Linked DNA regions of Homo sapiens. The protein of the gene in region 1 interacts with the protein of each later gene in a biochemical or structural test. Each region holds a gene or a part of one and is shown in the gene's direction. Other genes may lie near its edges.

Region 1 (3,653 bases):
CAAAGTGCTGGGATTACAGGTGTGATTCACCACACCCAGCCTTCTTTTCTAATATAGCTGTTTATAGCTATGAATTTCTCTCTAAGCACTGCTTTTCTTGGAGCCCATACGTTTTGGTATATCTTCGTTTTCATTCATTGCAAAAACATTTTCTGATTTCCCTTGTCATTTCTTCTTTGACTTGTTGCTTATTTAGGAGTGTGTTGCTTTATTTTTGCATATTTGTGAATGCACTTACTTTTCAATTTTAGAATCAACCCATAGTGCTATTACAGAACACTTATCTGTAATTACAAAATAGAATGTGAATGTTCTCAGCCAGACAATATGAAAGAAAAGGTACAGCTGATAGAGGTGGGGAAGTAGCCATGGAGAGAGAAAAGATTGAAGGGCAAATGTCCTCATTTTTACAAAGTAGGAAGTTAAGGGATACAGTCTGCGGTTGATGGAGCAGGAAATGAAGGTGTACTGTATTGTCATTTTTGTCATAAATTGGGCAAAACACATATGTACGGATCTCTAATAGTTTTTTGTTTTGTTTTGTTTTGTTTTTTGAGACAGAGTCTCGCTCTGTCCCCCAGGCTGGAGTACAGTGGCGCGATCTCGGCTCACTGCAAGCTCCGCCTCCCGGGTTCACGCCTTTCTCCTGCCTCAGCCTACCAAGTAGCTGGGACTTCAGGCACCCGCCACCACGCCCGACTAATTTTTTGTATTTTTTTAGTAGAGATGGGGTTTCACCATGTTAGCCAGGATGGTCTCGATCTCCTGACGTTGTGATCCGCCTGCCTTGGCCTTCCAAAGTGCTGGGATTACAGGCGTGAGCCATCGCACCCGGCCGGATCTATAATAGTTTTTAAAACTATATTAATATATTAACTTGAATTGGCAATTTAAAAATTGATCTTCATGGAATCTCTGAATTAGATTATCCTTTTTTATGACTTTCTAAAGAGAAATCATCCTGGTAATTTTATTTGATATTTTCTCTTCCCATTGCACACCTTGTTTTACTAATATTTCTTTTTTCTTTATATATATTTTTTTGCCATCAAGATCACTGTGGTAAGGAATATTATTTTGTTGATTTAATATTTCTTATTTTTCCCAGGCTGAGGCAGCTAAATTAGTTCCAATGGGTTTCACCACTGCAACTGAATTCCACCAAAGGCGGTCAGAGATCATACAGATTACTACTGGCTCCAAAGAGCTTGACAAACTACTTCAAGGTGTAGTAATCCTTTATCCTGTGTTGTGAACTCTAGTTAGGAAAGCTTCCAGGTTATAAAACAAAACTGAAATATTTGTGTAGCATTTCCTTGTTAGATAATGATAAAGAGATAGAGGAAGGCCAGGTGCAGTGGCTTATGCCTGTAATCTCAGCACTTTGGGAGGCTGAGGTGGGCAGATCACCTGAGGCTGGGAGTTCGAGACCAGCCCAGCCAACATGGAGAAACCTATTAAAAATACAAAATTAGTTGGGCATGGTGGCACATGCCTGTAATCCCTGTAGGTGCACATGCCTACTCGGGAGGCAGAGGCAGGAGAATCACTTGAACCCGGAAGACGGAGGTTGCTGTGAGCCAAGATTGTGCCACTGCACTCCAGCCTGGGTGACGAGCAAAACTCTGTCTCAAAAACAAAGAGAGATAAAGGAAGTATCCACATTGAAGAGGTAAGACTGCTGCAAGGTAGGACCTTATTTATAAAATACTAAACTTATCTGCAAATTAAATAATTTAGTCTCCATTTAATATTGTGTTAAGAGAGTAAGCTCCTTTTGCTTAAGGAGGTAACTGTAATTATAACCTACTCTACCACAGGGTTGAAAACCTGATGACTGGTTAAAACATTCCATGTTTGAATACTACTCATTGTGTACACACTAATCTTCAGGACTTCAGGGAAAACTATAAAGCTTTTGACCTTATTATTTATTTTTCGAGACAGGGTCTCACTCTGTCACCCAGGCTGGAGTGCAGTGGCATGGTCTCAGCTCACTGCAACCTCTGCTTCCTGGGCTCAAGTGATCTTCTAGCCTCAGTCTCCCCAAGCTAGGACTATGATCATTTACCACCTGGCTAATTTTTTTTTTTTTTTTTTTTTTTTTTGAGTCGGGGCATCACTCATTATGTTGCCCAGGCTGGTCTCAAAATCCTGAGCTCAAGCCATCCTCCTGCCTCAGCCTCCCAAAGTGCTGGGATTATAGGCTTGAGCCACCTTGCCTGGCCCAATGTCAGTTTTCTTTCCCTTTTTTTTGAGACAGAGTCTCACTCTGTTACCCAGGCTGGAGTGCAGTGGCATAATCTCAGCTCACTGCAACCTCCGCCTCCTGGGTTCAAGTGATTCTCCTGCCTCAGCCTCCCAAGTAGCTGGGACTACAGGCAAGTGCCACCATGCCCAGCTAATTTTTGTATTTTTAGTAGAGATGAGGTTTCACCACGTTGGCTAGGTTGGTCTCGAACTCCTGACCTCAGATGATCTACCCGCCTCAGCCTCCCAAAGTGCTGGGCTTACAGGCGTGAGCCATCATGCCTGGCCCCCAATGTCAGTTTTCTAATATCAGTGCTATACTATCATTATGCAAGAGGTTAACACTGCAGAAGGCTAGGTGCATAGAAATTTCGTATGTTTTTTTTTGTTGTTGTTGGTTTGTTTGTTTGTTTTTTAAAGACAGAGTCTTGCTCTGTTGCCCAGGCTAGAATGCAGTGGCACAATCTCGGCTCATTGCAACCACTGACTCCCAGGTTTGAGCAGTTCTCCTGCCTCAGTCTCCTGAGTAGCTGCAATGACAGGCACCCGCCACCGTGCCTGGCTAATTTTTGTATTTTTAGTAGAGACGGGATTTCACCGTCTTGGCCAGGCTGGTCTCAAAGTCCTGACCTCCTGATCCATCCACCTCGGCCTCCCAAAGTGCTGGGATTACAGGCATGAGCCACTGTGCCCAGCTTTTTTTTTTTTTTTTTTTTTTGAGATGGGGTCTTGCTATGTCACCCCGGCTGGAGTGCAGTGGCATGATCTTGGCTCACTGCCACTTCCGCCCCCAGGTTCAAGCTATTCTTCTGCCTCCGCCTCCCGAGTAGCTGGGACTACAGGCATGCACCACCATGCCCAGCTAATTTTTGTATTTTTAGTAGAGACAGGGTTTCACCATATTGTGCCCAGCTTTTTTTTTTTTTTTTTTGAGGAGTCTCACTTTGTCACCCAGGCTGGAGTGCAGTGGCGTGATCTCGGCTTGCTGCAGCCTCCGCCTCCCAGGTTCAAGTGATTCTCCTGCTTCAGCCTGCTAGTAGCTGGGATTACAGGTGCCCATCACCAGTTCCAGCTAAGTTTTGTATTTTTAGTAGACATGAGGTTTCACCATGTTGGCCAGGCTGGTCTCGAGCTCCTGACCTCAGGTGATCAGCCCGCCTCGGCCCCCTAAAGTGCTGGGATTACAGGTGTGAGCCACCGCACCTGGCCTTATTTGCAGCTATCTATAAATCTAATTATTTCAAAATACTTTTGGTTTATTTGTTTGTTTGTTTGTTTGTTTTGAAACAGGGTCTCACTGTGTCACCCAGGCTAGAGTGCACTGGCACGATTTTGGCTCACTGCAACTTCTGCCTCCCAGGCTCAAGTGATCCTCTCACCTTAGCTCCTGAGTAGCTGGTACT
Region 2 (3,653 bases), on another chromosome or scaffold:
TCAAGAGGAGTAGGAAAGCCTCTTGTATGTACCTGTATTATTTTATCTATAGCCTTCCATTTCTATTTCTTTCTTCCCACAGGTCCTTGGTTCTGTTGGGGGTTTTTTGTTTGTTTTTTGAAGAGGAGTTTTGCTTTTGTTGCCCGGGTTGGAGTGCAATGGTGCGATCTTGGCTCACCACAACCTCCACCTCCCAGGTTCAAGCGATTCTCCTGCCTCAGCCTCCCGAGTAGCTGGGATTACAGCCATGCCCCACCACGCCCAGCTAATTATGTATTTTTTAGTAGAGATAGGGTTTCTTCATGTTGGTCAGGCTGGTCTCGAACTCCTGACCTCAGGTGATCGCCCGCCTCGGCCTCCCAAAACACTGGGATTACAGGCATGAGCCACCATGCCCAGCCAGGTTTTTTACTTTTTTTTTAAGTCTGTTTTCCCTTTATTATTTATATTGGGTAATTTTTATTATTTTTATCTTCGACTTTATTGATTCTTTTCTCTTTCTCCTCCTTTCTGCTGTTGAACCTATTCTTTTATTTTCACTATTTTTTTAGTTCTGAAACTTCCATTTTTAAGAAATATTTATTCTGTTTATTTGCTGAGACTATTTTTTTTCATTTGTCTCAAGTGCGTCAAGGTTGCTTATTAAAGCTTTTTTAAATGGCTGCTTTAGAATCTTTGCCAGATAATTCTAACCTTTATGTTATCTCAGTATTGACATCTATTAACTGTCTTTATTCATTCAAGTTGAGATTTTTCATGGTTCTTAGTATAACAAGTGATTTTTGATAGAAACATGGACATTTGGAGTATTATGTTTTGAGACTCTGGATCTTATTGAAACCTCTTTTAGGTAGCTTCATCTGACACTGCTCTGGTAGGAGAAAGTGAGGAGTGGAGTGGGTTGTTACTGCCACGTGGAGAGGGAAGTCCAGGTTCCTCAGTTGACAGTTGAGAGAGGGAGAGACTCCTTGTTCCTGCTGGGCAGGGGTATGAGTTCCAGCTCCCTGCTAAGCCTCTGCTGACACCACCCTGGCTGGGAGGGCCAGGGAAGCCTTGTTGCTGTTCCTCACATGCCTTCTGCTGAGGGGTAGGAGGGAAGGGTGGCCTCAGCACCACTGAGCAGCGGTGAAAATCCTGATTCTCTGCCACACTTCCTCTGGCACCACCCCAGAGGGGCAGGGAGTGTTGCTTGGTTACTACTGTCAGGAGGAGGTGAAGTCCAGGCCCCCAGGTAGTCTCTCCATTGTCACAATGAGGGGAGTACTCGTTGCAGGCCTGTGGGAGATCAAAGTCCTCCAGGCACGGTGGCTCACGCCTGTAATCCCAGCACTTTGGGAGGCCGAGGCGGGCAAATCACCTGAGGTCAGGAGTTTGAGACCAGCCTGGTCACCATGATGAAACCCAGTCTCTACAAAAAAAAAAAAAAAAAAAAAAAAAAGAATTAGCTGGACATGATGGTGGGCGCCTGTAGTCCCAGCTATTTGGGAGGCTGAGGTGGGAGAATCACTTGAACTTGGGAGGCAGAGGTTGCAGTGAGCTGAGATCGTGCCCCCAGCTGGGCGACAGAGTAAGACTCCATCTCAAAAAAAAGAAAAAGGAAAAGAAAGCTCCTTGGCCCACCTTCTCTGGTATCCCAGCTGGGATACTGGGGTGCTCTCATTACAGCCCAATGAGGGGGGAAGTCCAGGTCTTCACTTGGCCTGTGCTAGCATGCATAGGGACAAGTCATAGGTTTTTCATGATGTTTACCTAGAGTAGAGCAGTTACCATCTAAGAGTTTTCTGCCTTTCTAGGCTGCCCCTTCCTTGGTCCTTGGTTAAAGAGAGCAGGCTTTGGTAGAGCTTTTTGTCAGCACATGTTACTGTTTCCGGGTTGCTGGCTCCTTCAGCTCAAAACCTGAGATATAAGAGGCAAAAAGAAAACCCAGGGCCGGGCACAGTGGCTCACATCTGTAATCCTAGCACTTCGGGAGGCCAAGGTGGGTGGATCACTTGAAGTCAGGAGTTTGAGACCAATCTGGCCAACATGGCAAAACCTTCTCTCTACTAAAAAACTAAAAAAAAATACTGGGCATGGTGATTCATGCCTGTTATTCCAGCTACTCAGGAGGCTGAGGCACGAGAATTATTTGAATCCAGGAGGCAGAGGTTTCAGTGAGCTGAGACCATGCCACTGCACTCCAGCCTGGGCGACAGAGCCGAGACCATGTCTCAAAAAAAGAAAAAGAAAAGAAAAAGAAAACCCAGGAACTTGCCACTGCCTCATTCCTGAAGTCCTGAGGTCTCTAGGTTTTAGCCTGTTGGTCTCTTCTCTCCACCTCTCGGTGTCTTCTTATGTTTACTTTACATATAATATCAGGCATTTTAGTTGTACTTAATTAGAGGAATAGGGGAAAGTGTGATACTCCGTCCTCCCAGAATCAGAAGTCCCAAATTTTTAATATTAAGCAGCGCCATGTTTTAAGGAATAGGCATTAAAGTGTTTTCTCTTGTCCAAGGACTGAGAAGAACCAGGAGAATTTTGTCTGCTCTATTTCCTGACTCCTTTTCTATTAATACTTAAATGTGAGGTATTCAGCAACTATAGTCAGTTTGATAGCAAAGGTAGATGCTCCTTTGGCATTTAATGGTATGTTCTTTGAAAGAGCTATCAAAATTTCTGAAGGTTTTATTTGTACATTTTATTTCATTGTTTGGGCACTTTTTTGAGGCTGTGACAGTTTTTGTTTATCCTCCGTATTTCCCCCTGAGGGGTCTTGAGGCCATACTGGGAGGGCACAAGGGAGCCCAAGCCCAGGGACTTAGCCTTCTTCCATCCCTTCCTGACACAGGGCTTTCACTAGAACAGTGAAGTCAGACTACTGGTGGCCATGCTGGAGCATGAAGGACAGCTGTGCCTCTGTGGGTGGGCTTGGCTTTAGCTGTCCATAGCAGGCGAGTCATTGCTCTTTGCATTCCTGATTTAGCAAGAATATGAGGGGACCCCAATATTGCAAAGAAACTGTTGCATGTCTTTCTCTTTTCCAGGCAAAAACTGATTATTCCAAGTGGAAGTTGCCCTGTTATTCTGAATACTTACTTTTGTGAGAAAGTTGTTGCCAAAGAAGATTCAGAAAAAACTTGTGAAGTGTACTGTCCGGACATACCCCTTCCAAGAAGAAGCATCTCTTTGGCCCAGATGTTTGTAATTAAGGGTCTAACAAATAATTCACCTGAAATCCAGGTAAACTCCTATTGGCCTAAAGGTTTTATGCTTGTAATAATGTTAGTGACTGGATTTGGAAGGGCTTCAGTGTAAGTGAAGATGTTAGCCTTTTGTCTCCCTCCAAAAACCCCACCACAAGGATGTATGCTGCATGAACTTACTGTTACGCCTGAATATATTATAGTTCAGTTCAGCATTTAGTGGTGCTCTTGTTACAGTATTTCATCTTTCTAATTATGTGTCTTTAATCTTTATTCTAATTTATTAAAATAGAGTCATGCATCACTTAACAGGGATATGGTCTGAGAAATTTGTCATTAGGTGATTTTGTCATTGTGTGACCATCATAGCGTGCACTTACACAAACCTAGATGGTCCAGCCTACTACACACCTAGGCTATATGGTATGGCTGATTGCTTCTAGGCTACAAACCTGCATGGTGGCAAGT

The links. Proteins that work in one complex are often made in the same cells at the same time.
Region 2: the proteins of RAD51 (region 1) and SPIDR form a complex in vitro, tested with the Homo sapiens proteins (one study listed by BioGRID and IntAct).

What each region holds. Positions count from the first base shown.
Region 1 is NC_000015.10:40,705,069-40,708,721, forward strand, and holds part of RAD51 (DNA repair protein RAD51 homolog 1), read left to right. Parts: intron 1-1,108; coding exon 1,109-1,226; intron 1,227-3,653.
Region 2 is NC_000008.11:47,592,785-47,596,437, forward strand, and holds part of SPIDR (DNA repair-scaffolding protein), read left to right. Parts: intron 1-3,026; coding exon 3,027-3,222; intron 3,223-3,653. UniProt on the Homo sapiens protein: Plays a role in DNA double-strand break (DBS) repair via homologous recombination (HR).